Regions from separate parts of the Homo sapiens genome. Here all the other regions are linked to region 4. The links come from fine-mapping of genetic effects on gene expression. A gene starts in region 4. Each other region holds a variant in brackets. All regions are shown on one strand. Distances are between the middles of the regions. Region 1 overlaps RFWD3 (ring finger and WD repeat domain 3). Region 2 overlaps GLG1 (golgi glycoprotein 1). Region 3 has its middle 6.2 kb from the start of GLG1. Region 4 holds the start of RFWD3 (ring finger and WD repeat domain 3). Region 5 overlaps GLG1 (golgi glycoprotein 1). Region 6 overlaps GLG1 (golgi glycoprotein 1).

Region 1 (5,335 bases), 23 kb before region 4:
TGCCCAAGCAGGAGTGCAATGGTGCGACCTCGGCTCACCACAACCTCTGCCCCCTGGGTTCAAGCTATCCTCCTGCCTCAGTCTCCCGAGTAGCTGGGACTACAGGTGCGTGCCACCATGCCCGGCTAATTTTTGTATTTTTAGTAGAAATGGGGTTTCACCATGTTGGCCAGGCTGGTCTCCAACTCCTGACCTCAGATGATCCGCCCACCTCAGCCCCTCAAAGTGCTGGGATTATAGGTGTGAGCCACCACGCCTGGCCTAAACAGATTAATTTTGACTAGAGAACTAGAATATTATCAAGAAATTGAAATGAAAAAAACTAGAGTCCCATGTATCAACTAGGATATACTCCCAAAGCATAAAATTAAGCAAAAAAGCAAGCTACAGAAGAAAAAGTTATAATCTAACATAACATTTGCATACAGTATAAAAACTTTCTGGCCGGGTGCAGTGCCTCACGCCTGTAATCTCAGCACTTTGGGAGTCCAAGGCAGGCTGATCACGAGGTCAGGAGTTCCAGACCAGCCTGGCCAACACGGTGAAACCCTGTCTCTACTAAAAATACAAAAAAAATTAGCTGGGCATGGTGAAAGGCGCCTGTAATCCCGGCTACTTGGGAGACTGAGGCAGGAGAATTGCTTGAACCTGGGAGGCGGGAAGTTGTAGTGAGCCAAGATTGCACCATTGCAATCCAGCCTGGGCAACAAGAGCAAAACTCCGTCTCCAAAAAAAAAAAAAAAAAAAAAAAAAACCAAAGAAACCAAAAACCAAAACAAAACTTTCTATATCATACTATGTATAATTTACAAATACATATATAGCTAATCAAATACATAATAACTCTTGGGAATGCTGAACACCTAATTCATGAAAGTAGTTCTCTATGGAATTAAGAACTTAGTTCACAGGAAGACTTCTAGTGTACCTTTTTAAATTTGACACAGAGTCTTGCTCTGTTGCCCAGGCTGGAGTGCAGTGGCGCAATCTCAGCTTACAGTAACCTCCGCCTCCCAGGTTCAAGCGATTCTCGTGCCTCAGCCTCCCGAGTTGCTGGCATTACAGGCACGCACCACCACATCCGGATAATTTTTTGTATTTTTAGTAAAGATGGGGTTTTGCCATGCTGCTCAGGCTGGTCTCAAACTCCTGAGCTCAGGCGATCTGCCTGCCTCAGCCTCCCAGAGTGCTAGGATTTCAGGTGTGAGCCACTGTGCCTGGCCCTTCTACTGAATCTATAATTAACTTCTTCTTCTTTAAAATTTTCTTTCCTTTTTTTCCTTCTTGACCTGGTCAACAGATTTATCTTTATTTTTTTGAGACAGGTTCTTACTCTGTCACCCAGGCTAGAGTGCAGTGGCATGACCATAGCTCACTGCAGCCACAACCTCCTGGGCTCAAGAAATCCTCTCTCCTGAGTAGCTGAGACTACAGGTGTGTACCACTACACACGGATAATTTTTTTCATTTTTATTAGAAACAAGGTCTCACAATGTTGCCCATGCTGCTCTCAAACTCCTGGTCTCAAGCAATCCTCCTGCCTCGGCCTTCCAAAGTGCTGGGATTACAGGCATGAGCCACTACACCCAGCCTATTTATTTTCAAAAAGGCTCAAAGCAATATGGCAAAACATTAAGATTTGATAAAATTGGGTAAAAGGCTGTTCGTTTTATTAGTCTGTATCGGCATTTTGAAACTCTTCACTTTTTCTAATGAGGCTGGAGAGTATACTAATTCCTTATTGTAATCAGTGAATTGTTTTTAAATATAATCACCCATTACAGCCACACGTATAGATTTTGCCTTTTCAACAAAATTCCTCTCTGTACACATCTTCCATTATTTAAAAACGCTACAAGTGAGCATTGGTTGGACCAAATGAGTAAAAACAAGGAAGAAAACTAAAATAATCTGTACAGTGACTACCTATAGAGCTTTTTTTCTTTCTTTTAAAAAAAATTTTAAATACAGATAGGATCTATGTTGGCCAGGTTGGTCTTGAACTCCTGGTCTTAAGCAATCCTTTTGCCTTGGCCTCCCAAAGTGCTGGGATTACAAGAGTGAGCCACCGCACCAGCCTTACTTTTTTTCTAGTTCACAAAAATGCAATCATACTAATAACATGCTTCCACAGGACAACATATGCACATTTCAACATTGTATTCTGTTCATGCATACACCACCGTTCATTCAACTAAGCAATCCCCTTGCCTTAGATTTTTAACAATGCTAAATGAAGTTTCATTAAGTAAATCTTGGTACACAGCCTTCAATGTTTCTTTAGAATGCCTGAACAATTACTAGATCAAAGGCTTTAGAGACACATTTCCAAGGATGTCTCAAAATGATTTTGCCTGTGTACATCCAAACCAGTAAAGTGTGAACCCATGTCACTGTACCTCTCTCTCAATGGTGTGTATGTTCTTTAATATTTTTGAAGCATATACTGAGTGGTGTTACTAGCAACTGTTTTTTTTTTTTTTTTTTTTTTTTGAGACGGAGTCTTGCTCTGTCGCCCAGGCTGGAGTGCAGTGGTGCAATTTCGGCTCACTGCAAGCTCTGCCTCACGGGTTCACGCCATTCTCCTGTCTCAGCCTCCTCAGTAGCTGGGATTACAGGCGTCCGCCACTATGCCCGGCTAATTTTTTTGTATTTTTTAGTAGAGACGGGGTTTCACCGTGTTAGCCAGGATGGTCTTGATCTCCTGACCTTGTGATCTGCCCACCTTGGCCTCCCAAAGTGCTGGGATTACAGGCGTGAGCCACCATGCCCGGCCCTAGCAACTGTTTTGTGCTTCCGAAATCCTGGTAATTTTTTACATTGCACTGCATGTGCAAAGCTTCACTTATGAGTTTTCTGTATGGAGAACTGCTGTGGCGGGGGGTGGTCAGGGATATGAGAAGCAAAAATGGCAACAGAAGTAATGTGCCAGATCCTTGTGTTTAATGCTCTACATAAGGCAAACGATGCAGACTTCCTTAAGAAGATGATCAGACATGAATTATAAATAACAGTGTAAGACAGACTGCCAATGATCCCCAGAGATCCCAAGTCACAGG[T/A]CAAGTAAAACCTCACTACGAGTGACTCATAACTTCTTTTTCAGATGTGCCTACAATGAACCAAAAGGGAACATTCCAGCCAGGCATACTCTTACCACCTACCTTTTCATGCGCTCCTGTTCACTAGTGTCCAAAGCTCTCAGGGTTCGGGCATAAAGGACGACAATGTCACTGTGCCTGGCTTTCTTGTTGCACTAAAGAACCCAATAGGACATAATTAGAGTGGTTCTAGGAATCTGCCTGACTTAACATGTTAATGTGTCCTTACCTATGGTCCTTACCTGGGGACATTTTCGTACTTGTCCTTTAAGCCACGTGGAAATGCACCTATACCCAAAGAGATGCCCACAGCGTAATGCTGAGAGCCGGTGGTCCCCAGCATTGGTCCACTGTTCCAGACATATTGTACAAGTGTCCCCTTCTTCCTCATCCATAGAAGCAGAAGGTAGCAGAGGCTCAGACTTCTGGGGAGATGGCTAGATGGAAAGCAGAATATATTCAAATTAGAGAAAATGTAAAATCAATCTTGAAGAAGATGTGCAACTAAGAAATTAACAGAAGTGCAAAAAAAATGATACAATCAAAAGGGCTACAGAACACTTGTAACACCTATGAATCACTTGTCATTCTTTCTAGAATGCAATGTCACAAAATATAAGCTATGAAAACTATACTACTCTTAAATCTTATAAAATTCTTGGATACTTTTTCCTTCACTCAAAGGAAGAAAAGCAGCTATCCATATAAAGAATAGCAGCTATAAAATATTTAACTCATGTGTACCAGAGGGCAAAAAAAGAAAACAAAGGATACAAATGCTTACAAGAAAACACAATGGTCAATAAGTGTTTGCTTATAATTAAAGAAATGCAAATTAAAGAGACCATTTTTCATCTATCAGACTGGTATAAATTGATGTCTGATGACACCAAGCACTGTTGTGGGTAAATGAGATATGGACATGCTTATATACTGTTGCCTTAAATGTAAAGTGGCACACATTTCTGGAGCACCATTTGGCATTATCCATGAAAATTAAAACACATATATCTTTCCTTTGGCATAGCAATCTCTCTGCTAGAGATACCTCATGGATATATAGTCATGCATTGCTTGACAATGGGAATACATTCTGAGAAATGCGTCTTTAGGCGATTTCGTCATTGAATGATCCCAGAGGTACTTAAATAAACCTAGACGGTGTAAACTATTACATACTTAGACAACAAACCTGTATAGGATGTTACTGTACCAAATACTGTAGGCAACTGTAGCACAGTGGTGGGTTTCACCATGTTGGCCGGGCTGGTCCCGAACTCCTGACCTCAAGTGATCCGCCCGCCTTGGTCTCCCAAAGTGCTGGGATTATAAGTGTGAGCCACTGCGCCCAGCCTGGTATTATCATCTAATGGGACAACCATCATACATGTGGTCTGTCATAGACTGAACTATTATGCAGCCCATGATCATAGTCACAAATATTTTCTTTTTTTTTTTTTTTTTTTTTTTTTGAGACAGACTCTCGCTCTGTCGCCCAGGCTGGAGTGTAGCGGCAGAATCTCGGCTCACTGCAAGTTCCGCCTCCTGGGTTCACACCATTCTCTTGCCTCAGCCTCCTGAGTAGCTGGGACTACAGGCGCCTGCCACCAAGCCCGATTTTGTGTATTTTTAGTAGAGACGGGGTTTCACCGTGTTAGTTAGGATGGTCTCGATCTCCTGACCTCGCGATCCGTCCGCCTTGGCCTCCCAAAGTGCAGGGATTACAGACGTGAGCCACCATGCCCAGCCAGTCACAAATATATTCTAAGATAATTATATAAGATTGTTCCAAGCAGGCCAGGTGTAGTAATCACACCTACAGTCCCAGCTTATTGGGAGGCCAAGGCAGGAGGATTCCTTGAGCTCAGGAGTTTGAAACCAGACTGGACAACATAGCAAGACCTTGTCCCTGTTAAAAATTTAAAAAATTAGCCATGTGTGGTGGCACATGCCTGCAGTCCCAAGTAGTCAGGAGGCTGAGGTAGAAGCATCACCTGAGCCCGGGATATTGAGGCTGCAGTGAGCTATGATTGTGCCACTGCACTCCAGCATGAGGGACAGAATGAGACCCTGTCTCAAAAAAGTTCAGTGTAGCATGATTTATATAAAGAAAAAAAATATTATTACCCTCCCAAGTAGTTGAGACAACACAGGCGTGTGCCACCATACACCAACCATGCTTTACATGATAAGAAAAAGAATTAATTCGCTGGGCGCAGTGGCTCACACCTGTAATC
Region 2 (5,335 bases), 100 kb before region 4:
AAAAATAAACCACTGGAGAATTTTAGACTTAATGGAAAAGTTGAGAAGACAGCACACAGAGTTCCCATATGCCTTCTCATTTTCCCCTATTGTTAATAGCTTACTTTATATAGTGCAATCTGTCACAACTAAAGAACCAACAATGGTACACATTTTATTCAGATTGTACTAGGTATTTTATGAGGATGATGGTTAATTTTTTGTGTCAACTTCACTGGGCCACACGCGTTTCGCCAAACATTGTTCTGGGTGGGTCTACGGTGCTGTTTTTGGATGAGATTAGCACTTGGACAGGCAGACTAGCAAAGCAGACTGTCCTTCCCAATGTGGGTGGGTCCCATTCCATCAGTTGAAGGTCTGAATAGAACAAAAAGGCTGAAGCTCCCCCAGGACTCCAGAATCAAAGAAAGGGGGGATTTCCTCCTAACTGCTTTGAATTGGGACCTCAGTTTTTGTCTTTTTTTTTTTTTTTTTTTGAGACGGAGTCTCACTCTGTCGCCCAGGCTGGAGTGCAATGGCACGATCTCAGCTCACTGCAACCTCCGTCTTCCAGGTTCAAGCGATTCTGCCACCTCAGCCTCCCCCCGCCGCCCCCCTGCCCCCGCAGTAACTAGTAACTTGACTGCCATCAAGCCTAGCTAATTTTTGTATTTTTGTAGAGATGGGTTTCAGCATGTTGGCCAGGATGGCCTTGAACTGACCTCAGGTGATCTGCCTGCCTCAGCCTACCAAAGTGCTGGGATTACAGGCATGAGCCACTGCGCCTAGCCCTAAAAACTCTTTATAAAAGGCAAAGCTTAAGCAACTAATTGTAAGAAAAATTAAACCTGAGCTGGGCATGGTGGCTTAGGCCTGTAACCCCAGCTACTTGGAGGCTGAGGCAGGAGGATCTCTGGAAGCCAGGAGTTTGATTGAGACCAGACTGGGCAACACAGCAATCCCATCTCGAAAGAAAAAAAGAAGGGAGGAAGGGAGGGAAAGAAGGAAGGAAAGAGAGAAGCAATTCTGTATATAGAATATGTAAAGAAAGTAAGATATGTTTTTGTAAGGAAAGCTATAAAGGCATAAAAATATGTGTTTGCTGAGAAAAAAAGTTATTTAAAGGTTATTTCAAATTGAATGAATTTTTAGAAGAGATATAGTCTGGCACCACGCAGTCCTGCGCAGTCCTGCACAGTCCTGCTTGGTTGCATGGCAGCACCTGGGGGTGCCCAGCTGGAGGGATGGGGCAGGATCGGGGCCAACAGGCAGCAAGCCAGGATCCTGCAGCAGCCAGCACCTTCCTCCTGCTGGTGTCAGAGCTGGGCATGGGGGGCAGCATGCCTGTGAGTAGCCTCAGAAGGCTGAGGTCCCTGCCCCCAATATTGGCACCTAGGCCTGCACCCTCACACCCTTCATGACCACAACCAAATTTTCTTGTCAATTATGTCTTTAACCATGATCATTTTGTTTCCACAGTTAATTGCTTTATACGGATGCATTTTCTTTAAGCTCTTTACAACCAAGTAAAATCCTAGAGCATTATGTCTTCAAGAACGTTCATGGAAAGTAATGGAAAGGACCCTAATAAGCACTACTGAATACAAGTTTCTGATAACTTTAGGCTCATCTAATTTGGACTGGGTAAGAATTCCCAGAACTTTAATAAAGAGACTGGTTTATAAAACTGCTAACCCAAGCAGGACAAAAATTAACTGAATACTAAGAAAAATACTCTGCCAGATTTTCATGCTAAATCAGCCAGTACTAAAACTGTTAAGATATGCAACTTGAATGAACTCTATGTTCCAAGTCAAATTACCTATGATAACCCATTTAATGAACAGTGCTATGCACCTGAATTGGAGATACAAAATTGGTATTTAACAGGCTATAAATGCAATGTTAAGCATGGAATCACAGAGATCCTGCACAGCCACCTGGTCCTTCCTGAATCCGTAAATCTTCCATTATTAAAAGCTCTGCACTCCATGACTCATCATGGAAGACAGAAAATGATCCAAATAGAAAACATATACATTGGTGTGGTGACTGCTCTAAATCGCTAAAAATGGTTTATGACCAAGGTTTGGCTTATCAAACCTACAACCTGGGAAGATAATTAAAACTTCAGCTACCTGATGGGTCATTGGAACACTTATAGAGGAATTTCATTCAACTGTCATTTTCAACACGTTTTCTGGTAAAAGCTTTCTCATGCAAGAAGGCTGATGCTATAACAGTAGCTAAAAGGTTGTCAGAAAATGTGTTTCCCTCACGGGGCATTCCTGGAGAAATCTCCAGTGATAGTGGTACTTGTTTCACTGGACAAGTTGTAAACAGTTAAGTAAGGTATTACAGACACAACAGCTTTAGGTGAAGCTAACTGAATTGACTGGTTGCCTTGGTCAAAGGTATTGCAGATTGATGACAACCTCATCTGCTTCCAGTAGAAAATATAAGTTGACTCATTATGAAATAGTCACTGGAAGGCCTATGCCACTAATAATAGAACCTCATGTATCTTCCTCTCCCAAACTCTGATATGAATAAATGCTGCAAGCCTTTAA[T/G]GCATTATACCAAAGTGTATTTTCACCAGCTAAAGGAAGCTTTTCTTTTTTTTATTTTCTGTAGATGGTCTCACTCTGTTGCCCAGGCTGGAGAGCAGTGGTGTGATCTCAGCTCTCTGCAACCTCCACCTCCCGGGTTCAAGCAATTCTTGTGCCTCAGCCTCCCAAGCAGCTGGGATTACAGGCATGCGCCACCACACCCAGCTAATTTTTGTATTTTTAGTAGAGATGGGGTTTCACCATGTTGGTCAGGCTGGTCTTGAACTCCTGGGTTCCAGAGACCTGACCTCCAGTGATTCGCCCACCTCGGCCTCCCAAAGTGTAGAGATTACAGGCATGAGCTACCGTGCTGGCAGTAAAGGAAGCTTTTCATGACCCACCCACTGAGGACATTCAAATCCTTCACAATCTAGAACCTGGAGGTTGGTTCTTCTGGAAATGACGTCAGGAAAACACTGCCCTTGTTACCCACAATGAAGCAAAACTCTGGGGCCTCAAACACTGGGTCAATTGATATCACAATGCAGGAGGGCCCCTCCAGACTTGGAATTGTACACCCATTGGAAATCTTAACGTAAAGCTAACCAGTTAGAAAAGGTTTTCCCCCAGAAGCAGATGGCACCCTAGACATGGACAGCTTTCCCAAAAGCATGGATCAAAACTTCTCTGTCATCATGAGACTCTTACCTCTCAATGTTTTCCTTGTTTATGCCTCTATGAACAACAGAAAAGGGGTCTTATGGTGCACCAATGGGGCACACTTTTATTTGTGAAAACTTTTACAGCCAACCTTATCCATAGGCAGCATTATGTCTTAATGGATGAAAGATGACAGTCCAATGTGGGTTAGGAATTTTAATGGTTCTGTCAGAAAGAGAACACTGGTCCACTCCTTTTAACCTACATCAGAGGTGAAAAAGAACACTAGTGCTTGGAAGCCTTCATCATTCTGAATGGCCTTCATTGTTAGGTCACTTTTTCCAGAGTTTGGAGTAAACGATACAGTGTCTAGAAATTTGTCCCTCATGGGCTGGACGCAGTGGCTCATGCCTGTAATCCAAGCACTTTGGGAGGCTGAGGTGGGCAGATCACTTGAGGTCAGGAGTTCAAGACCAGCCTGGTCAAAATGGGAACTCTGTCTCTAGCAGAAACACAAAAATTAGCGGGGCGTGGTGGCGTGTGCCTGTAGTCCCAGCTATTTGCGAGGCTGAGGTGGGAGAACTGCTTGAACCCAGGAGGCAGAGGTTGCAGGGAGCCGAGATCACGCCACTATTCTCCAGCCTGCGCAACAGAGTGAGACCCTGTCTCAAAAAAAAAAAAAAGAAAGAAAAAGAAAAAAAAAAGAAATTTGTTCCTCATGATATGCTCCATAGCAGATTCTACTGCAAAGGCTATGGTTACAAAACAGACTTCTTTAAATTATCTTGCTAAAGGTCTACTGGATAACAGAATTGCTCAAGGTTGCCTACTGGCTAATCAGGGAAGTATCTGTGAAGTTGCTGACACTTTTATTTTTATTCTTTGAGACAGGTTTTTGCTCTGTCACCCAGGCCGGACTGCAGTGGCTCAATCATGACTCATTTAGCCTCAACCTTCTGGGCTCAAGTGATCCTCCCACCCAGCCTCCTGAGTAGTGGAACTACCAGCATGTGCCACGAGGCCCGGCTAATTTTTGTATTTTCTGTAGAGACAGGGTCTTGCTATGTTGCCTACGCTGTCTTGAACTCCTGGCCTCAGGGATCCTCCCGCTTCGGCCTTCCAAAATGCTGGGATTAACAGGTGTGAGCCATCATACCAGGCCTTGCTGACACCTCTTGTTGCACGTGGATGAATATACTGGATATTACAGAGATTCAGTTGTAGGGGATTAATGAACTGGCTGCTTGGTTGAAATGAGTAGATTGTTTATCTTGCTCATTCTTTGATCTATTTGATTTTAGTTGGTTTGGTTCATGCGAACTCTGGCTAAGGAGCATACTCCAAACTCTTAGTATTATCCTCCTAACAGTCATAATAGCAGTCTCCCTGCTGCATTATATTCTCTCAAAAGTTATAAATGTTTGCATGCAGCCATCTATGTAAGTTCAAATGGTCTCTCTTCAGCAGGAATGATAAACACTCAAAGACATGCATGATCATGAGGACACCAAAACCTATGAATAAAGTGCTAGGACTGGAAACCCAAAAGGATGGTAACTGAGTAGCACTAAAGCCCTAAGTTTCAGTAACACTCACACCCAAGTGAGAACCTGACCAAAAAGGCGAAGCTGTTAAACAAAATTGTGAGAGCCCACTGTTTTGGATTAAGCTTATTCACTAGGCATCAATAGGCTAGACCAGATCAAACCTAAATGAAGTCACTCATGCTAAATGCAACATCATCAAATTGAAACTTTAAGGAAGCAGAAAGATCCCAAACAGCCCAGGTTTTTTATTCCTTTCCTAAAAACAAGAGATCCCAGCATAAGGAGGTTGCCCCTGCTCTAATCCCTACAGAAAACTAACCTGAAGTCCTTGTTCCCCACCTTGCAAAAGCCAGTTTTGTTACCTCCCAGTTGGATTTGAGATCAAATAAGTACATTTATGGATGCCTAAAGTTTTGTCAACCTCTCAAAATTGACAAACAATACAAAATTGAGGCCAGATGGGGTGGCTCATGCCTGTAATCCCAACACTTTGGGAGGCTGAGATGAGCAAATCACTGGATGTCAGGAGTTCAAGACCAACATGGTGAAATCTGTCTCTACTAAAAATATAAAAATTAGACAGGTGCAGTAGCACACGCC
Region 3 (5,335 bases), 53 kb before region 4:
TTGACCAGGCTAGTCTCGAACTCCTGACTTCAGGTGATTGCCTGCCTCGGCCTCCCAAGTGCAACCATGAAAAGAGGACTCTAAGTGTTCCAAAATCAGACATTAATAACTAGTTCAAGATTCTAAGGAGGTGGGAATAAGCATTCAAAATGAAGGCCTGCTAGGCATGGTGGCTCACACCTACCTGTAATCCCAGCACTTTGGGAGGCCGAGGCGGGTGGATCACCTGAGGTCAGGCCTTTACTAAAAATACAAAAATTGGCTGGGCATAATGGTGCAACCTATAGTCCCAGTTACTCAGGAGGCTTACGCGGGAAGATCACTTGAAAGCGGCAAGTGGAGGTTGCAGTGAGCTGAGATTATGCCACTGCACTCCAGCCTGGGTGACAGAGTGAGATCCTGTCTCAGAAAAATAAAAAAATTAAAAAATTTAAAAAAAAAGGGGGTCAGGCGCAGTGGCTCATGGATGTAATCCCAGCTACTCGGAGGCTGAGGCAGGAGAACTTCTTGAACCCAGGAGGTGGAGGTTGCAGCTCCGAGCAGAGATCACGCCGCTGCACTCCAGCCTGGGCAACAGAGCGAGACTCGGTCTAAAAAAAAAAAAAAAAACAGTGCCTATCAAAGACTCAGTGTTGCAGGGTGGGCGCAGTGGCTCACGCCTGTAATCCCAGCCCTTTGGGAGGCCAAGGCGGGCAGATGACAAGGTCAAGAGATCGAGACCATCCTGGCCAACACGGTGAAACCCCGTCTCTACTAAAAATACAAAAATTAGCTGGGCGTGGTGGCGTGCGCCTGTAATCCCAGCTACTCAGGAGGCTGAGGCAGGAGAATCGCTTGAACCCAGGAGGCAGAGGTTGCAGTGAGCCGAGATTGCGCCAGGGCACTCCAGTCTGGCGACAGAGCAAGACTCTGTCTCCAAAAAAAAAAGACTCAGTGTTGCTCTCTGTTGCTGACAAGTTGGACATTCAGGGGCAGCAGTAGCTGGATGTACCTTGGTGAGTGGGAGTCCATGCTACTGAGCTCACATGGAACCTGCATGTCTGCTGCTATGGCTGCTCTGTTCACGTGCCCAGAATGTCGGGTCAGGAGGAGCTAGAGGCTAGCTCATGTGAATTGGCTGTGTCATTTTGCTTACTTGGTTGCTCAGTGCCTCTTCTATGGTGGAGGCTTTCTGGAGGGCATTATTAAGAGATACAAAAATCTTTATATATTGTACTCACCCCCACACGTTCATCCACATGCCTCTACTCCAGGCCAGGCCATTGGACTTTGTCCAGGAATCTGTATATATTCTCATCTTACATACAAAGTGGAATGACTAAGAGCACAGCCAGCATTTCCACTAGTTTGGAAAAGTTTTCACTCTCCACCATCTTTCAGAACCACATTTGCATTCTTTAGGTCTGTAATGGTGGCTCTAATCTTCACCAATCCCCATCCTCCCAATGGAACATTTTTTTTTTGTGATTAGTTATCATGAGCTTATTATAAAAGAGAGATATGGAGGCCAGGTGCGGTGGCTTACGCCTGTAATCCCAGCACTTTGGGAGGCCGAGGTGGGTGGATCACGAGGTCAGCAGATCGAGGCCATCCTGGCTAACATGGTGAAACCCTGTCTCTACTAAAAATACAAAAAATTAGCTGGGCGTGGTGGCAGGCACCTGTGGTCCCAGCTACTTGGGAGGCTGAGGCAGAACGGAGAACGGCGTGAACCCGGGAGGTGGAGACTGCAGTGAGCCGAGATTGCGCCACTGCACTCCAGCCTGGGCGACAGAGCGAGACTCTGTCACAAAAAAAAAAAAAGAAAAAGAAAAAAGAGAGAGAGATGGAAATTATTTACATGATGAAAGATTTCAGCTGGGTGCGGTGACTCACGCCTGCAATCCCAGCACTTTGAGAAAGATTTCAGAACTTCAGTGGAATGGGCAGCTTCATGTTGCTGCCATTTTCAATAGTGTCTTATTTCAGTCTACATACTTTCCAAGAATGTCACCATCTCTAAATAGGAAATAATCCTTGTCATCTAGAATTACTTTGGTGCCTCCATGTTCTGGGAGAAGAACTTTATCTCCAACTTTCATGCTAACTGGTTGAATCTCTCCACCTTTTCCTTTAGAACCCGATCCAACAGCGACTACTATTGCTTGCAATACTTTTCCTTGAGATTTTTCTGGAAGCATAATGCCTCCTCTGGTTACAGTTTCAGCAGCGCTCCTTTCAACCAGTACTCGCTCAAAGAGTGGAAGAAACTTTCTTTTTATTTATTTATTTTTTTTGAGACAGAGTCTCGCTCTGTCGCCCAGGCTGGAGTGCAGTCCTGCGATCTCGGCTCACTGCAAGCTCCACCTCCCGGGTTCACGCCATCCTCCTGCCTCAGCCTCCCGAGTAGCTGGGACTACAGGCACACGCTGCCACGCCTGGCTAATTTTTTGTATTTTTAGTAGAGACAGGGTTTCACCGTGTTAGCCAGGATGGTCTCGATATCCTGACCTTGTGATCCGCCCGCCTCTGCCTCCCAAAGTGCTGGGATTACAGGCGTGAGCCACAGCACCTGGCCGAGTGGAAGAAACTTTCTAAACGCCTGTCCTGCCATGACTCCCTCCACCTCAGACTTGTACTCTCGGAACACTGTTTTTGTTTTTTTTGTTTTTTTTTTTTGAGATGAAGTCTCGCTCTTG[T/C]TCCCCAGGCTGGAGTGCGATGGCGCGATCTCGGCTCACTGCAACCTCTGCCACCCGGGTTCAAGCGATTCTCCTGCCTCAGCCTCCTGAGTAGCTGGGATTACAGGAGCCTGCCACCACGCCCAGCTAATTTTTGTATTTTTAGTAGAGACGGGGGTTTCACCATGTTGGCCAGGCTGGTCTTGGACTTCTGACGTCAGGTGATCTGCCCACTTTGGCCTCCCAAAGTGCTGGGATTACAGCCACTGAGCCTGGCCTTGGAACATTGTTTTTAACGTACAATCTTAGCCACGGGTAGGGAGCAATTTCACAGATTTACATCTGGCCTTTCCTGCCCATGATAGTCCCTGCCCCACAGGCCAGAAATACAATGTGGGGTTATTCCAGGTCATTTCCAGTTATACATTTGGGGACTATGTAAATCTCTGGGTGGGTCCACACATCCAGTGAGCTGAGAGCCATACCTTACCACTTTAGGCAGGAGTCCATTTATTACCTGGCCCCTACAGGCCAGGGGGCTATAATGATGTTTTTGGCCTCTAATGATTGATTTCACCTTGAAGTCTGTGTCCGATAGTCTTGAAAATGTTCGGTTACTTCCCTTTTGCCAATGTACAGTCACCCAAGTAAGTAGCCACAAGTTCCTCTGGGGAAGGCCTGAGGGCCCTTGTGCCATGGTACGGCTGCCATGGTGTTGTAGGGTCTTTGGTGTTAGGCTCCTGGCCACCACTTTCATCAATGGATTCTGGATCTGAAAATTGGCTCAGATTGGGCAGGGAGCAGTGGCTCACACCTGTAATCCCAGCACTTTGGGAGGCTGAGGTGGGCGGATCATGAGGTCAAGAGATTAAGACCATCCTGGCCAACATGGTGAAGCCCCGTCTCTACTAAAAATACGAAAATTAGCTGGGTGTGGTGGCACATGCCTGTAGTACTAGCTACTCAGGAGGGTGACGCAGGAGAATTGCTTGAACTTGGGAAGTGGAGGTTGCAGTGAGCCAAGATCACACCTCTGCACTCTAGCCTGGGTGACCGAGTGAGACTCCATCTCAAAAAAAAAAGCCTCAGCTCTAGAAGCTGGGCAAAGGAGCATGACTTATTGGGGGTGACCACCCTTAGCCTCCTGTTCCTCCATTCTTGTGGACCTTATTGGCTATAGATGTTGAATAGTTCCCTTGCTGGTCTTGGGTGATGTTATCCTTTATTAACCATCTCTATACTCCCCGCTGGTCAAGACCCCTTGGTCGCTATTTTCTTATTATTTTTTGAGATGGAGTCTTGCTCTGTCACCCAGGCTGGAGTGCAGTGGCACAATCTCGGCTCACTGCAACCTCTGCCTCCCGGGTTCAAGAGATTCTCCGGCCTCAGCCTCTCGAATAGCTGGGACTACAGGCGTGTGCCACCACGCCCAGCTAATTTTTGTGTTTTTAGTAGAGACAGGGTTTTACCATGTTGGCCAGGCTGGTCTTGAACTCCTGACCTCAAGTGATCCTCCTGCCTCGGCCTCCCAAAGTGCTAGAATTATAGGTATGAGCCACCGCATCTGGCCCTTGGTCATCACCTTTGATCTTGCTGGTAATGGTGGTAATTGTGGTCTCCTGGCTTCTGGCACTTAAACATTGCCACCGGGTCTTTATTATTCTGGGGCCCTAGTCAGCCCCGTCTTACCACCTGTTTTCTTGGAACACTCCTGGCACTACTTGTGTGAGTCCAGGTCTGCCAGGAAGCAGACAACAAAAGGGGATTACCTATGCAAGAAATTTATTAGGGGCAACAGTTGTAGGAAAAATGAGGTGGCTGAGAGAGCCATGTGACCATGATGCTGGTCCAACACTGTGTGAAGTACAGAGGGAGGGAAGGAAGGACGGGAGGATTCGGTGGAAACATCTAAGACTCAACTTAAACTGAAATTCATTTCTAAGAAAGTCAGCCAAGGTCCGGCACGGTGGCTGACGCCTGTAATCCCAGCACTTTGGGAGGCCAAGGCAGGCAGATCACCTGAGGTCGAGAGTTCGAGACCAGCCTGACCAACATGGAGAAACCCCGTCTCTACTAAAAACACACAAAAAATTATCCGGGCATGGTGGTGCATACCTGTATTCCCAGCTACTCGGGAGGCTGAGGCAGGAGAATCACTTGAACCCAGAAGGCGGAGGTTGCAGTGAGCCAAGATCTCCAGCCTGGGCAATAAGACCAAAACTCCGTCTCCAAAAAAAAAAAAAAAAAAAGAAAGTTGGCCAAGGCCATAGGATAGTCCTCATGCAAAAGTTACCTGTCACTGAGTCTTCCAGAAATGGGCCTGCGTCAGTAGCCCTATCACTCTTAGTCAAGACTAGGAGGATCCTTGGGATGAATGCAGTTGTAGATTTCAGTGCTCAGCAGATCAAACAGAGGTCAATCATGTTCCCCACAGCTGGAGATCTGAGAGGCTCATTTTCAAGGTCACCACATCTGAGTAACTTCTTTAACTAGAGAATCTCTTTCATATAAAAGGCATAGCATGGCTGGGCGTGGTGGCTCACGCCTGTAATCCCAGCACTTTGGGAGGCCAAGGCGAGCAGATCACCTGAGGTCAGGAGGTGAAGACTGGCCTGGCTGACATGGTAAAGCCCAGTCTCTACTAAAAATACAAAAATTAGCCGGGTGCAGTGGCTCAT
Region 4 (5,335 bases):
ATTTTTTGTATAGATGGGGTTTCCCACGTTGCCTAGGCTGGTCTTCAACTCCTCGGCTCAAGCAACCCTTCTGCCTCAGCCTCCCAAAGTGCTGGGATTACAGGAGTGAGCTACTGCAGCTGCCTAACTAAAAGCTTTTAATGTTTCTAGGGTACAACGACAGTCTCCCAAGAATTGTGTGTCAGAACATAAGGCCCAAGCTACTTCTAGATGTACTCAAGAGACATTAAGCAACTCAGCCTTCAGGAAGACAAAGGGGAGAAATGGACTAAAAAGAGCAGAATCTAGGGGGCCGCACTGTCTACTCCCATATGGTTATTTAAATTAAATAAAAATCAAATTCGGCCAGGAGCTGTGGCCCACGCCTATAATCCCAGCACTTTGGGAGACTGAGGCAGGTAGCTGGAGACCAGGAGTTGGAGACCAGCCTGGGCAACACGGCAAAACCCCGTCTCTACAAAAAATACAAAAAAATTAGCCAGCCGTGATGGTGTGCACCTGTGGTCCTAGCTACTTGGGAGGCTGAGGCAGGAGAACCCCTTGAACCCGGAGAGTGGAGGTTACATTGAGCCGAGATCACGCCACTGCACTCCAGACCGGGAGAGAGAGTAAGACTCCGTCTAAAAAAAGAAAAAAGAAAGAAATAAAATAAGTTCCTTTGTCGTGCAGGTCACATTTCAACTGCTAGAAACACACATAGGGCGGGTGACTCCCATACTGGACAGCAGAAATACAGAACACTTTTCTCGTCGCACAAAGTTCTATGGAACGGTGCAGTTCTGGAGCTGAAGCTTCCTAACCACTGTAGGCCAGTCGGAGGTGCCTAGAACGAGAGACCATGGGCTGGGCACCCCAAACCTTGAGGATGTCACACAAACGCTGTTTTTTATGTGTGCTGTGAGCGGTGCTTAAAATGTCAACCTCAGACTTGTCATCTTTGTTACTCAGGTTTCAATCAATGGCCACAACAGGCAGGACGAAAGCCCCTCAATTAAAGGTTGAGAAGAGGTGGGCGGGGGAAGTGTTCAAATCTTTGCTCTGGCCGGTGCAGAGGGTCACGCCTGTGATCCCTGGACACTGAAATGCCCAGGCGGATGGATCACTTACGCTCTGGTGTTCCAGACCAGCTTGGGCAACACAGTGAAATTCCCATCTCTACCAAAAAAGAAAAATAGAACAGGTCAGGCGCGGTGGCTCACACCTGTAATCCCAGCACTTTGGGAAGCCGAGGGCAGACCACTTGAGGTCGGAGTCCCAGAATGGCCAATATGGTGAAACCCCGTCTCCACTAAAAATACAAAAACTACCCGGGTGTGGTGGCGCATGCCTGTAATCCCAGCTACTTGGGAGGCTGAGGCAGGAGAATCGCTTGAACCCGGGAGGCAGAGGTTGCAGTGAGCCGAGATCGCACCACTGCACTCCAGCAGGGGCAACAAAGCGAGACTCTATCTCAAAAAAAGAAAGAAAAAAGAAAAATAAAACAATGAGCCGGGCGTGGTGGCGCGCACCTGTGGTCCCAGCTATTGCGGGAAGCCGAGGTGGGAGGATCCCTGGGGCCCGGGAGTTCGAGACTGCAGTGAGCTCTTCCAGCCTGGGTGCAACAGGGAGACTTTTCTTTCTTTCTTTCTTTCTTTTTTTGAGATGGAGTTTCACTCTTGTTGCCCAGGCTGGAGTGCAATGGCGTGATCTCAGCTCACTGCAACCTCGGCCTCCCGGGTTCAAGCGATTCTCCTGCCTCAGCCTCCCGAGTAGCTGGGAAATGGGGTTTCTCCATGTTGGTCAGGCTGGTCTCGAACTCCTGGCCTCAGGTGATCCGACTGCCTCGGCCTCCCAAAGTGCTGGGATTACAGGCCTGAGCCACCGCTTTTCTCTTTATAACACCTTTTTCTCTTTATAACAGGAAAAAGGGAGGAAGAGAGAGGGAGAGGGAGAGGCGGAGGGGGAAGAGGAGGGAGAGGGAGACGGGAGGGGAAGGGAGAGAGGGAAAGAAGGAAATTAAATCCCTGTTCTTTTACTACATGGGGAAAGAAAGACATAGATAGATTAGATAGACAGATTAGATAGATAGATAGATAGATAGATAGATAGATAGATAGATTGATTAGATACATAGATATTAAATCCCTGTTCTTTTACTACATGGGGAAACTTTGGGCGGGTTTCCTAAACTCGGCTCAACTTGTTCTCCTGTAAAACAGGGATAATACAAGTCTTTACTCCACAGTTTCCGTGATGAAATTAAAAATGAAGTTCTTCCATCAACTTTAAAGTGATGAAGTAATCGGCGCTCAGAGCGGGCGCAGGCAACGCCGCTGAGGAGCCCGAGGCTAGGCTCTCGGGGGAAGGGCCGGGCGACCTCCCACCCCGGCCAGGGCAGGCCCCGCAGCAGCGAACTCGGCTCCTTCAGTGATCGCCCCGAGCTCTCGCCTGCCCAGCCCCCACGCCCAGCAACCCAGATACGCGCGGGGGTTCGGGCTCCTTAGCCCCGACCACTGGCGCCGCCCCGAGGGCCCGAATCCCCTCAGGCCGCCGGGTTCCAAGCCCGCGTGCAGCCCACCTCGTGGGGTGTCTCCTGAATCCCAATCCAGGAATCAGGCGTGGGGAGGTTTATCCCGAAGCTAGAGGCCCAAGGCCTGAGGAGAAGCAACACCCCTCCTCACCTGAAACCAGCAGGCCGCGGCCGGGCTCGCGAGCCCGCCGAAGACTCGGTAGTTACCTCGGCCGCACTCCGAATGCACCTACGCCAACTGCCACTTCCGGAGCCGCTCAAGCTCCCGCCAGAGCCGCCGGCAGGCATGCTCCTATTGGACAGAAGCCCTACGCTGTGGCCAATACCCACTCTTCTTCTTCAATGGGTCCCCCGATAGCTGAAGCAGCGGTGCTCTCATTGGCTGGTAGTTCGTCCTGACGAGGCGGGACCGCGCTTGAGGAAGCCTCCTACAATTGGCAGGAATCTACGTCCGTCACCTTGCACCCGCCCCGGAAAAAATGGGAGGTTTTTTTGTTTTTTTTTTGTTTGGTTTTTTTTTTTTTTTTTAGCGCGTTTTATTTGAACTTTCTGGCGGGAGAAAGTTATATGATTTCTCGGTCCATTTTGGAATGGGGATGATGATATTAAAACTGACTCCTGCTGCTTATCCCTAACGCTTTAGTGAAGGAGTTATCTGTATCCAAAGGATAGCAGCTAATCGAATAATTTCAAAATATTTCAATATTTTGAATTTCGGAGCCTGTAAAGAGGCGTAGGACAGTCCAGTTCATATGTATCCTCTCATGGGGTTGAAGAGCTCACGCAAAATACTTTGCCTACATAATCTCTTCAATCTCAAACCGCTGCAAGGGATCTGAGCTACTGAACAGTCTCAAATCACTTGTTAGGGCCGCCGCTCGCCGCCAGCGCCAAAAGAAAGGGGCCCCCGGAATTCTCCAGCTACGTACGAGGAGCGCGAGCCCACAGCCGTCTCGGCTCCGAGCCCGCCGCCGGCAGGAAAGCCACAAAGAAAACTGATAAACCCAGACAAGATGATAAAGACGATCTAGATGTAACAGAACTCACTAATGAAGATCCTTTGGATCAGCTTGTGAAATACGGAGTGAATTGTGGTCCTATTGTGGGAACAACCAGGAAGCTGTATGAGAAATAGCTTTTGAAACTGAGGGAGCAAGGAACAGAATCAAGATCGTCTCCTTCAGCAACAATTTCTTCTTCAGCAGAAAATACAAGGCAGAATGGAAGTAATGATTCTGACAGATATGGTGAAAATGAAGAAGACTCTAAATTGGGCTCAAGTTTGAGAAGAGAGAACCGCTAAACAGGGGAGTAAAGACTCCAGTAACCCTCAAGCAAAGAAGAGTTGAGCACAAGGAGAGCTATTCTCAAGCTGGAATAACTGGGACTGAATGGACAAGTGGATCTTCAAAAGGCGGACCTCTGCAGGCATTATTAACTAGGGAATCTACAAGAGGGTCAAGAAGAACTCCAAGCAAAAGGGTGCACGCTTCAGAATATTTTCGTATAGATGGAGCAGTAATTTCAGCGAGTACTCCCATAGCTGAAACTATAATTGCTTCAAACAACGAATCCTTAATTGTCAATAGGGTGACTGGAAATTTCAAGCATGCATTTCCTATTCTGCCAGTCACTGAATTCTCAGACATACCCAGAAGAACACCAAAGAAACCATTGACAAGAGCTGAAGTGGGAGAAAAAAAACACAGGAAAGAAGAGTAGAAAGGGATATTCTTAAGGAAATGTTCCCCTATGAAGCAACTACACCAACAAGAATTAGTGCTAGTTGCCGCAGAACAATCAAAGGAGCTGCAGGCCGGCCATTAGAACTCAGTGATTTGAGGATGGAGGAGTCGTTTTCATCTACATATGTTCCTAAGTATGTTCCCTTGGCAGACGTCAAGTGAGAAAATACAAAAAAAAGGGACGCTCCATTCCTGTATGGATAAAAATTTTGCTGTTTGTTGTTGTGGCAGTTTTTTTGTGTGTGTTTGGTCTATCAAGCTATGGAAACCAACCATGTAAATCCCTTCTCTAATATTCTTCCTGATGACTCTAGAAAACCCAACTGAATGGTATCTCTTTGGCACATTCAACTTGGTCTTGTATTTTTAGTAACTGTGTTGAAGAACATTCGTGTACGCTTTTTGACTCCAAGAACTAAAAATAATGTGATTTTGCCTCAATAAACGTAGTATTCCATTGGAAAGCAAACAAAAGATATATGAATGGACTTTATTAAAATGTTTTTGAACTTTGGACTAGTAGGAGATCACTTTGTGCCATATGAATAATCTTTTTTAGCTCTAGAACTTTTTTTTTTTTAGACAGGGTCTCGCTCTGTTGCCCAGGCTGGAGTGCAATGGCATGATTTCGGCTCACTGCAACCTCCACCTCCTGGGTTCAAGTGATTCTCCTGCCTCAGCCTCCTGAGTAGCTGGGATCACAGGCACGTGCCACTACGCCCACCTAATTTTTGTATTTTTAGTAGCGGTGGGGTTTCACTATGTTGGCCAGGCTGGTCCTGAACTCCTGACCTCAGGTGATCCACCCGCCTTGGCCTCCCAAAGTGCTGGGATTATAGGCGTGAGCCACCGCGCCCGGCCATAATGTTCATGATCTTGATAGAGTTTGGATTACTCATATGTATGCATTTGTCAAAACTCATCAAATGCTATCTTTAAGATTTGTGCATTTCACACAAATTTTTCACAGCAAAAACTTACCTTCCCACCCCCCCGCCAAAAAAAAGCTCATAGAGAGATAAACTCCAGTTAATGGCATAAATGCTGAAGTGTTTAGGAATGAAGTGCATAAAAAATCAGG
Region 5 (5,193 bases), 210 kb before region 4:
GAGAAGAGCGAGGTGAGTGGGGATGCTATACAAGAGGGCTGTACAAACTGGGCACTGGATAGGTAGTTCCTTTGGTGGTCAAGGTGGCTCTACCTGTCCTTGAGCTCTCGTGTCACTCGCTTGGTGATCCGTCCACACATCAGGCCAATCAGGAACAATATACAGATGCTCCCACTGATCACAGAGAGAATGTAGTTCTTAGATGGAGACGTCATTACTTGCATGGCAAGATCAGAGAAGCCATCTGCTGGGGCCACCTAGAATGACACAAGGCAATGTGATTCTCTGAGAGAGCACTGGGCTGGTGGCAGTGCTAGGTCTAACTTATCCCTCTCAGTTCCTAGTTTAATTTATGTCTTTTCTTTTGGAGAGGGAGGGCAGGAGATAAGAAAAATCAACACAGAGCTACAACTCTTTTTCCTGATCATAAAACTATACACACGTCTACTGCACAAAATTAGAAATACAGAAAGAGACAAAGTGGTGCAGTCACCCACAATTCCATCACAGTGATCACCACTAACACCAGGACACTGAAGATGTGTCGGGCCCTGGACGAAGGGCTCCCCCTGCCCTCACTCATTTAGCACTCACACCAAGCCTAGCAAGCAGATTTCACCACTCCCATACTCTGGATGGAGAATCAGTGCCCAGGGGTGAGTGTGGTTAAATGACTTCTATAAGGCCATGGGTTCTTCTATCTTTTGGTTTATGCTCTTTAAATGCGTTTGCTGCCTTTCTTTAAAAAACAAAGATAAAAGTTGACATCGTTTTACATATTCTATATTTTGTAAATTCTATTTTTTTTTTTTTTTGAGACAAAGTCTTACTGTTACCCAGGCATTGTGCAGTGGCATGATGTCAGCTCACCACAACCTCTACCTCTCAGGTTTAAGCGATTCTCCTCCCTCACCCACATGAGTAGCTGGGACTACAGGTGCACGCCACCATGCACAGCTAATTTTTTTGGTATTTTTAGTAGAGACGGGGTTTCACTGTGTTGGGCAGGCTGGTCTTGAACTCCTGACCTCGTGATCCGCCCACCTCGGCCTCCCAAAGTGCTGGGATTACAGGCATGAGCCACTGCGCCCGGCCTTGTAAATTCTATATTATTTCTAAATTTTATATTTTGGCTTTTTTTTCATTGAGTTGGGGTCTCGCGCTGTTGCCCAGGTTGGTGTACAGTGGTGCGATCACAGCTCACTACAACCTCAAACTCCTGAGCTCAAGGGATCCTCCTACCTCAGCCTCCTGAGTAGCTGAGACTACAAGTGCACCACCATGCCTGGCTAATTAAAAAATTTTTTTTGGCCAGGCATGGTGGCTCACGCCTGTAATCCCAGCACTTTGGGAGGCTGAGATGGTGGACCATGAAGTCAGGAGTTCAAGACCAGCCTGGCCAACATGGTGAAACCCTGTCTCTACTAAAAATACAAAAGTTAGCTGGGCGTGGTGGCGCTCGCCTGCAATCCCAGCTACTGGGGAGGCTGAGGCAGGATAATTGCTTGAACCCGGGAGGCGGAGGTTGCAGTGTGCCAAGACTGCACTACTGGACTCCAGCCTGGGCAACAGGACGAGAATCCGTCCCCAAAAAAAAAAAAAAAAAAAAAAAAAAAAAAAAAATTTTTTTTTTTGTTAGAGATGGGGTCTCCCTATGTTGCCCAAGCTGGTCTCGAACTCCTGGGCTCAAGTGATCCTCCTGCCTCGGTCTCCCAAGGTGCTGGGATTATAGGTGTGAGCCACTGCACCCAGCCTGTATTTTGACTTTTTTCATTCACCATTATATCATAAGCATTTCCCACATCAAAAACAATGTGCAGGCCGAGACCAGCCTGGACAACATAGCCAAGACCTTGTCTCCACAAAAAATTATAAAATTAGCTGGGTGTGGTGGCGTGCACCTGTGGTCCCAGCTACTCAAGGAGGATCACTTGAGCCCAGGAGTTCGAGGCTGCAGTGAGCCATGTTCACACCACTGCACCGCAAACAAGACTTATATTGACAGAATATATTTAACCGCCCTCCACTTGTGGACATTTATAATTTAACCTCAGCTATCTTTCATCCTCAGTTTTCCACTGCTTTCCCTAACGGACCTTGATGGTAGCCTGCTATGGCAGAATCAGGACCAAAAGGGTCCCCAGGTGCACATGTCCCCATTCTTTTGCATCCCAGCCTGGCTGCTGAGATGGTGTGGCCCAGAGGCATCTGGGCTGTTTCTATGCTCATATCACGTACACAGAACAGAGTAGGGAGGCGTGAGATGAATGAGATTTGAGCTCCAATAGTTGCCAACACAAAACAAGCCGTGAATTACTCTGAGTCACTCTGAAGCAATAATACACAGCTCAAAGGACTGGACACAATGAGGCAGAATGAAGTAACGCAGCATCTCCTGCTGCCGCTTCCCTGAGCCACC[G/C]GCTTTAAAGGCAACTTTCTTCCCTTGGCAGAAGGGTGAGGAGAGTGTTGACTACTGTGACAGACAGGAGCCCTCCCTTGTACCTTCCTGCTGTCGACCTATGAAGACTTTCTCTGATTGTTCCTCTTGACTTGTTACCCTTGACTTGGAAGTAAAAGGGTGATAAAATTGGCCAGGAAGGAGGGGTGGTCCTGGGATTACTCTCTTGATCTTAGGCCACTGCAGATGTCTATCCCAATATGAGTCAATACAAAAGCATGGCTCTAAAAACCAGAGGGACTCTGGGCAAGTCGTGACCTCTGAAGTCAGTTTCCTTCACTGTAAAGTGACGAAACAGTCATTATACTTACCTCACAGGGTTTCAAAGTTCAAATCAGGCAATACGTCCACCAAAGCGTTATGTAAACTACAAAGCAATGTATGCACGAGAAGAACTGTTATTCTTCTCACTGAGGCTGAACCTCTGTAGGAAAAATTACCCCTAGCCCAAGTCTACCTGGGTATCATACACATTCATGAGTGTCCTACAGTCTTTCTTCATCCCCTTCTTCTCCATGTTCCAGACCAGATGAGTACTGGCCTCAAATATGTATTTTTCTCCTAAAGACTGTAAAATGATAAAAGCAAGCTTCATCATAGGCGAGGCTGGATTTCTTTCTTTTGCCATGGGTGTGACATCTCTTTTGTCTTTGGGTGACTCACTTTTCAGCGGTGAACAGTGGGCGAAATGAGAAAGGAGGGCCCTGGCAAAGCCTTGCAGACAGCCCGATGCACAGGGAGACGGCTCCAGGCTCACGGGCAGCCAAGGAATTCTAAAAGCACACTGACCATGTTTACTGTTTTTTAGTAGAGACGGGGTTTCACCGTGTTGGCCAGGTTGGTCTCGATCTCCTGACCTCGTGATCTGCCTGCCTCGGCCTCCCAAAACGCTGAGATTACAGGCGCGAGCCACCGCGCCCGGCCCTGACCACGTTTTCAAACGCACTTATTGCTAGTCTCACAATAAGGACAAGACCAGTGCGATATCTAAAAGAGGCTGGACAGCCACAGCGAGGAGAGTGGCATGGCCTTTGCTCAAGGATGACATGCAAATTGGTGAAGTGTTCCATATTTTTTTGTTTTTTTAAAAAAGGAGATTCTCTTGGTCATTACCTTTGCTGCGTAACTCCACATCTCAATCCGGTCATTGAGGCGCTTTTTGCACTCGGGCTGTAACCTCACCCGCTTATCCTCCAGTGCTTCCATGAGACAGGACATTTCTGTGGGAGGAAATGAATAATAAGAAGAACCTGAAACTGTACAGAATAGAGAAATTTCTGTAAAGATGAGGAAGAGGGTGCACAACCACCAGAGAATTCAGATCTGCAGGCTCAACAAAGTTAAATACATACTAGGAAACTTGATCCAGGATCCAACAATGGAGAGAAATGATATGTAACCTCCAGGGTTGGCGTCCGAAGCCTCTCTTAAAACCTCCTTATTTTTAGAGCCAGGTGTGGTGGCAAACACCTGTAATCCCAGATACTTGGGAAGCTGAGGCAGGAGGATCCCTTGAGCCCACGACTTTGAGACTACATTATAGTAAGACCTTGTTTCAAAAAATTAAAACGAAAACAGGCTGGGCATAGTGGCTTATGCCTGTAATCCCAGCACTTTGGGAGGCCGAGGTGGGTGGATCACTTGAAGTCAGGAGTTTGAGACTAGCCTGGCCAACATGGCAAAACCCTGTCTGTACTTAAAAAATACAAAAATGAGCCAGGCATGGTGGTGGGTGCCTGTAGTCTCAGTTACTCAGGAGGTTAAGGTGGGAAAATCACTTGAACCCAGGAGGCGGAGGTTGCAGTGAGCTGAGATCATGCCACCACACTCCAGCCTGGGTGACAGAGTGAGACTCTGTCTCAAAAAAATAAATAAAAATACAAACAAACAACTTCTATTAGTTTTATTGGGTATACGTGGCTCAAAAAGAACTCTCACACTTGCCTTGGCTCCCTCCTCACACAGAACCTGTCTACTGAGTCCACTGTCGTCACCGGGGAAGTGTGTGAAGCTGGCTTCTAGTTTCGGCACCAGGAAAAGGACCATGATGATGACTTTAACTTCTGCTTCCCTAATAAATACCTCAATTCTCCCTGTTCATCAAATCTTTAGCTCCAGTCATGACAAGGCCAGTTCAAACTCGCAGGCTTATTCCTAAATTCATGATGCCATAAAGGTCTAGTTTTGGCATCACCCAGGTCCCCAGGGAATGTTGTCTATGACTGGGCTACAACTACAGACCATACAGACCACAGTAGCTGCAACTGATGTCTAAGAGGGAGTCTTTGCTCTTCCCAAGAGAGTTCAGACAGGATCAAGAGTGAACACAGAGACTTACGACGCCCGCGGCCAGGGGTGATGGCTGCGCAGTGGTGTTTAATGTCCAGGGCACAAGCAGTATGAAGTACCGGGTCAACAAAGATGTCTGCTTTGCTTTCCTTCAGCATGTTTAGCACTTCCTGGAAAGGGAGGGTCATTGCAGACAGAGCTTTTGAAGGGGAAATGCATCAGATCTGTTGTCTGTAAATACTTCATATACTAATAAAAAAGGGGGGAAGTTGAGGGCTAACAACAGAGACCACTTTGGGACAGGTTGCAAGGTGGTGATGATGTACAGAATGCAGAATTTAATTGAGTAACTAACTACTTTTAGGGATACAAAACTGTGTGTTGGAAAAAAGCAGGGGACTGTAAGTGACTGTAAGATCAGATTTGTGTTTTTGGCATTCCCGTAT
Region 6 (5,335 bases), 140 kb before region 4:
GGAGATGGATACCAGCCTGGGCCACAGAGCAAGACCCCCATCTCTACAAAATAGAGACAGAGCAAGACTCCATCTCAAAAATAAATAAATAAATAAATAGAAGTTATTCAGGCTGGCCAGATACCCAAACAATTTTCCGAGAGAGAAGTATCAATTGAAAAATGAAAATAGTATATAAGTAACAAACAGTTTTAAAGTAAAATATAACTTGTACATAAAATATAACATAATGGAAGGTCATTGTACTCTCCAAGGGAGAAAGAGAAGACTTGAGAGTTGGTGATGGTTGGTAAAGGCAGGGTATGAGGGAATCATTCTCTGGAAAGTAATGTAAAATCAGATGACTGACTATGAGGCAGGCATTCAGTATCAGTATGAAGACATATTTTATGGTAATTCTTTTCCTTAGAACTTTGGCACTTAGAAAAAACTGATGTGGAAAGATTCATGACATTACCTGTAGATGAATCTTTGAGATTTAAAAAATACACTTTGGGCCGGGTATAGCAGCTTACACCTGTAGTCCTAACACTTTGTGAGGCTGAGAAGGTTGGATTGCTTGAGCCCAGAAGTTAGAGGTCAGCCTGGGCAACAAAGTGAAACCCCATCTCTACAAAAAATACAAAAATTAGCAGGGCATGGTGGTGTGCATCTGTAGTCCCAGCTACTCAGGAGGCTGAGGTGGGAGGATCACTTGAGCCTGGGAGACTGAAGCTGGAGTGAGCCGTGATCACACAACTACACTCCAGCCTGCGTGACAGACCAAGACCTTGTCTCAAAAAGCAAAACAAAACCAACACCAAAAACCACTTTTTGACATGGAGAAATACTGTATGTGCAAGACACACTGAAGAGGAACAGAAGATGCTACTTGATCACTTCCTGCTATCACTCCTTTAGCACTCCTAACTATGAGGTAGAATTCAAATTTGTTCCATGTGATAGTCTGACTAGTGTTGAGTAAGTCGCTACACGCAAATTTGCTTAGAACAATAATGTCTCAGGGCATAATCTGTGTTTTGGGTAAAGTGCTATCAACCTGTAAGGGTCATGATGGCTAAATACCATTAACTGAACAATCATTATGTGAAACAAATCTGTATCCTGATTATACATCCTTAACTTGGTCACAGTCGAAATTGAATTGATATTATGCTACCTCATACACAATATAAGAATATTCCAAAGTAAAATTATATTTTTATTCCTACCCACCCTTTGTGCTACTGTTGTCATATATTTTATTCTACATGTTATAATCTGAAAGTATACTGTTATTGTTTTGGCTTAAGTCAGTTCTTTTTTTTTTTTTTTTTTTTTGAGATGGAGTTTTGCTCTTTTTGCCCAGGATGGAGTGCAATGGCGCTATCTCGGCTCACTGCAACCTCTACCTCCCAGATTCAAGTGATTCTCACGCCTTGGCCTCCTGAGTAGCTGGGATTACTGGTGTGCACCACCACACCCAACTAATTTTTATATTTTTAGTGGAGATGGGGTTTCACCATGTTGGCCAGGCTGGTCTCGAACTCCTGACCTGAGGTGATCCACCCACCTCAGCCTCCCAAAGTGCTGGGATTACAGGCGTGAGCCACCACGCCTGGCCAAGTCAGTTATCTTAAAGCATGAAAGAATAATAGTCATACGTATCAATTATTTTTCTCTTCTAGTGCTCCTACTTCTCTGCTTCAATTTGTGATCCTTTTACCTTCAAGAATTTAGGATTTCTCACAGTGTGCAAATGTGGGAGATGAATATTCTCAGCTTTCGCTTGTCTGATAACACCTATTTTATTTTTTTTGAGATAGAGTCTTGCTCTGTCGGCCAGGGGTGAGTGCCGTGGCGGGATCTCAGCTCACTGCGACCTCTTCCTCCCCAGTTCAAGTGATTCTTATGCCTCAGCCTCCCAAGTAGATGGGATTACAGGTGCGGTGGTTAATTCTTTTTTTTTTTTTTTTTGAGATGGAGTCTCGTTCTGTCACCCAGGCTGAAGTGCAGTGGTGCAGTCTCGGCTCACTGCCAGCTCCACCTCCCAGGGTCACACCATTCTCCTGCCTCAGCCTCCCGAGCAGCTGGGACTACAGATGCCCACCACCACACCTGGCTAGCTTTTTTGTATTTTTAGTAGAGATGGGGTTTCACCGTGTTAGCCAGGATGGTCTCGATCTCCTGACCTAGTGATCTGCCTGCTGGGTTTACAGGCGTGAGCCACAAAACCTGGCCATTTTTGTATTTTTAATAGAGACAGGATTTCACCATGTTGGCCAGGCTGGTCTTCAACTCCTAGCCTCAAGCGATCTGCCTGCCTCTACCTCCCAAAATGCTGGGATTACAGGGGTGAGCCACGGTGCCTGGCCTATTTTCATTTTTTAAAGGGGTATTTTTTGCTGGATATAGAATTCCATGTTGGCATTTTCTCTCAGCATTTTACATTTATTGTTTCATTTGCTCTAGTTTCTACTGCTTGCTTTGTTGAGAAGCCAGCTGTCATTTTCCTTCCCTCAAGAGAATGTCTCTTTTTCTCTGCCTGCTTGTTGAGTTTTCTTTTTATCTTTTCGTTTTGGCAGATTGTTAATAATGTGTCTAGGCTAGGTGTGGTGGCTCACACCTATAATCCCAGTACTTTGGCAAGTCGAGGCGGGTGGATCACCTGAGGTCAGGAGTTCGAGACCAGCCTGACCAACATGGTGAAACCCTGTCCCTACTAAAAATACAAAAGTTAGCTGGGCGTGGTTGTGGGCACCTGTAATCCCAGCTACTCAGGAGGCTGAGGCAGGAGAATCACTTCAACCCCAGAGGCGGAAGTTTCAGTGAGCCGAGATCACACCATTGCACTGCAGCCTCAGTGACAGAGCGAGATTCTGTCTCAAAAAAAAAAAAAAAAAAAAAAAAATTGTTAGGTGAGTATGGATTTCTCTTGAGGTTCACTAAGTTCGTTGAAT[T/G]TATGGGTTAATGCCTCTCATTAGATTTGGAAAACATCTTGGCCATTATTTCTTCGAATACTGCTTCTATCCCATTCTGTCTGCCTTTTTTTTTTTTTTGAGACAGAATCTCGCTCTGTTGCCCAGGCTGGAGTGCAGTGGTACGATAGTGGTTCACTGCAACCTCCACCTCCCAGATTCAAGCAATTCTCCCGCCTCAGTCTCTTGAGTAGCTGGGATTACAGGCACCTGCCACCACACCCAGCTGATTTTGTAATTTTTAGTAGATATGGGGTTTTTTACCGTGTTGAACAGGCTGGTCTCGAACTCCTGACCTCAAGTAATCCACCTGTCTTGACCTCCCAAGGTGCTGGGATTACAGGCGTGAACCACCGCACCTGGCCATGAATCTGTTTTTATGTCCACTAAAGCTGTCTTTTAAAACTACCCATAAGTTCTTAATTTCTGAAATTACATTTAGTCCAAAAATGTCTAATTGATTTTCTTAATAAAGACTAATTCTCGGTTGAAATACTTCATATTTTCATCCATTTTAATTTTCCTCTATTTATAGGAAAATATTTTATTTTCCTCTATTTTATTTATAGGAAAATATTTTATTTTCCTCTATTTTATTAGTTATTTGAAGTCCTTGTCTGCTATTAATAATTCCAATATATGAATTACCTCTTCTCTGGATCTCTCTCTGTTGGCTACTTTATCTCTTGATATCTTCCTGCTTCTTCTCATATCCAGCCATTTCTGATAGCATGCGGGACATTATGAATGGCTATATTATAGAATTTCTGGGTTATATAATTGTTCTCTAAAGAGTCCTGACTGCTTCTTACATAGACCTTCCACCAAATCTCCTGTTTTTTGGATACTATTTGTCCCCCATTTTCAGCAGTATCGTATCCTTCCTATTCCTTGGCTCTTTGAGAGTTCTTTTTTTTTTTTTTTTTTTTTTGTGACGGAGTCTCACTCTGTCACCCAGACTGGAGGGCAGTGGCACGATCTCACTGCAACTTCTATCTCCCCGGTTCAAGCGATTTTCCTGTTTCAGACTCCTGAGTAGCCAGGATTACAGGGGTGTGCCACGACGCCTGGCTAATTTTTTTATTTTTAGTAGAGGGGTTTCACTATGTTGGCCAGGCTGGTCTCAAACTCCCGACCTCAGGTGATCCACCCAGCCTTCCAAAATTCTGGGATTACAGGTGTGGACTACTGCGCCCGGCTGGCTCTTTGAGAGTTCCAAGGCACACATCAACTTTTTTCTGGGTTTCTCTTCTGTCAGATTCAGTCTATTGATGGATTTTGAGGTTTTCCCCTAATCCTTTGCTTTATAAATAATGCCACAACAAATATCCTTTTATAGACACATCTCTATCCATTCTTTTAACTATCCATAAATTCATAGAAGTAGAAATGCTGGGTCAAAACATATGCATTTTAGGTTGACTGTTTTATAGCTTGTTTTTATTCCCATACATAGGCTTGAACAGGGTTCAGCCAACTTCTTCTGCAGAGAGCCAGAAAGTAACAGTTCTCAGGGAACTGTAGTCACTGTTGCAGTTACTCAACTTTGCCATCCTAGTGTGAAAAGCAGCCACTGGCAATACATAAATAAATGGTGTGGCTGTTTCAATAAAATTTTATGTATAAAAACAGGTAGTAGACTGGATTTGGCCTAAGTGTTGTAGTTTTTTGATCTATGGGCTAGAGAATGCTTAAATACACACATCCTTATCAATACTGTGTATTTATCCTTTTTTTTTTTTTCTTTTTAAGAGATGGGGGGCTCACTTTGTTACCCAGGCTGCAGTGCAGTTTTGTGATCGTAGGTCACTGCTACCTCGAACTCCTGGCTCAAGGGGTCCTCCAGCCTCAGCCTCCCGAGTAGTTGGGAGTACAGGTGCGAACCCATTTATCAAATTTTTGATATTTGCTAATCAAATGGATGACAACAGTGCACTCATTTTTTGCTGAATTTTTATGCTTTTGATTCTGAGGGAGAATAAACTTTTTACTGTTTATTGGACACCTTTTTCTTTTCCTGTGAACATTCTATTCATGTCTGTTATGTTTATTAATAGCATTTTCTATTAACAAATATAGTCCTTTTCATCTGCATTGTGAATACTTTTTTACAAAACATTTTTTGGGGAGAAAACTTTCAATGTAATCAGATATAGATGCAGATATATATTTTTAAAACATCATTTGGGGTTGTGTCATATTTAGAAAAGCCTTCCCTCTAATCTTCTAGTATTCTTCTAGTTTTATTTTGTACTTGACTTACCTAGGTTTTCGTAAGAGTAAGTAGTTAACCTAAATAGCCAATCTGTCTCTGCTTATACAGCCTCCGGTCCCATCTACCTTCTATAATGTGATAGAGTGACTTTTGCCACATATAG

The links. PIP is the estimated chance that this variant, and not a neighbour inherited with it, causes the effect.
Region 1: its variant is the best candidate, but not a certain one, in a credible set for the expression of RFWD3 in stomach (GTEx, PIP 0.74).
Region 2: its variant is the best candidate, but not a certain one, in a credible set for the expression of RFWD3 in whole blood (TOPMed, PIP 0.88).
Region 3: its variant is the best candidate, but not a certain one, in a credible set for the expression of RFWD3 in thyroid (GTEx, PIP 0.64).
Region 5: its variant is the best candidate, but not a certain one, in a credible set for the expression of RFWD3 in blood mononuclear cells (TOPMed, PIP 0.60).
Region 6: its variant is the best candidate, but not a certain one, in a credible set for the expression of RFWD3 in unexposed skin (GTEx, PIP 0.86).

What each region holds. Positions count from the first base shown.
Region 1 is chr16:74,641,201-74,646,535 of GRCh38, forward strand. RFWD3 (ring finger and WD repeat domain 3) reads right to left here. Exons shown (of 13, transcript NM_018124.4): 5 at 3,341-3,535; 6 at 3,162-3,253. Among named protein-coding and RNA genes, the nearest start is that of RFWD3, 23 kb to the right of the region's middle. The variant T/A (reference allele first, on the strand shown) is at 3,060.
Region 2 is chr16:74,559,870-74,565,204 of GRCh38, forward strand. All of the region lies in intron 1 of GLG1 (golgi glycoprotein 1), which reads right to left. Among named protein-coding and RNA genes, the nearest start is that of GLG1, 45 kb to the right of the region's middle. The variant T/G (reference allele first, on the strand shown) is at 2,550.
Region 3 is chr16:74,610,629-74,615,963 of GRCh38, forward strand. It overlaps the pseudogene HSPE1P7. Among named protein-coding and RNA genes, the nearest start is that of GLG1, 6.2 kb to the left of the region's middle. The variant T/C (reference allele first, on the strand shown) is at 2,679.
Region 4 is chr16:74,664,126-74,669,460 of GRCh38, forward strand. RFWD3 (ring finger and WD repeat domain 3) reads right to left here and starts at 2,752. Exons shown (of 13, transcript NM_018124.4): 1 at 2,661-2,752. It also overlaps the pseudogene TMPOP2. RefSeq lists a silencer at 2,282-2,431.
Region 5 is chr16:74,453,078-74,458,270 of GRCh38, forward strand. It overlaps GLG1 (golgi glycoprotein 1), which reads right to left. Exons shown (of 26, transcript NM_001145667.2): 24 at 4,797-4,917; 25 at 3,572-3,678; 26 at 1-257. The coding sequence ends at 90. It also overlaps the pseudogene RNU6-237P. Among named protein-coding and RNA genes, the nearest start is that of CLEC18B, 34 kb to the left of the region's middle. The variant G/C (reference allele first, on the strand shown) is at 2,420.
Region 6 is chr16:74,525,947-74,531,281 of GRCh38, forward strand. The region is part of intron 2 of GLG1 (golgi glycoprotein 1); the gene reads right to left. Among named protein-coding and RNA genes, the nearest start is that of GLG1, 78 kb to the right of the region's middle. The variant T/G (reference allele first, on the strand shown) is at 2,940.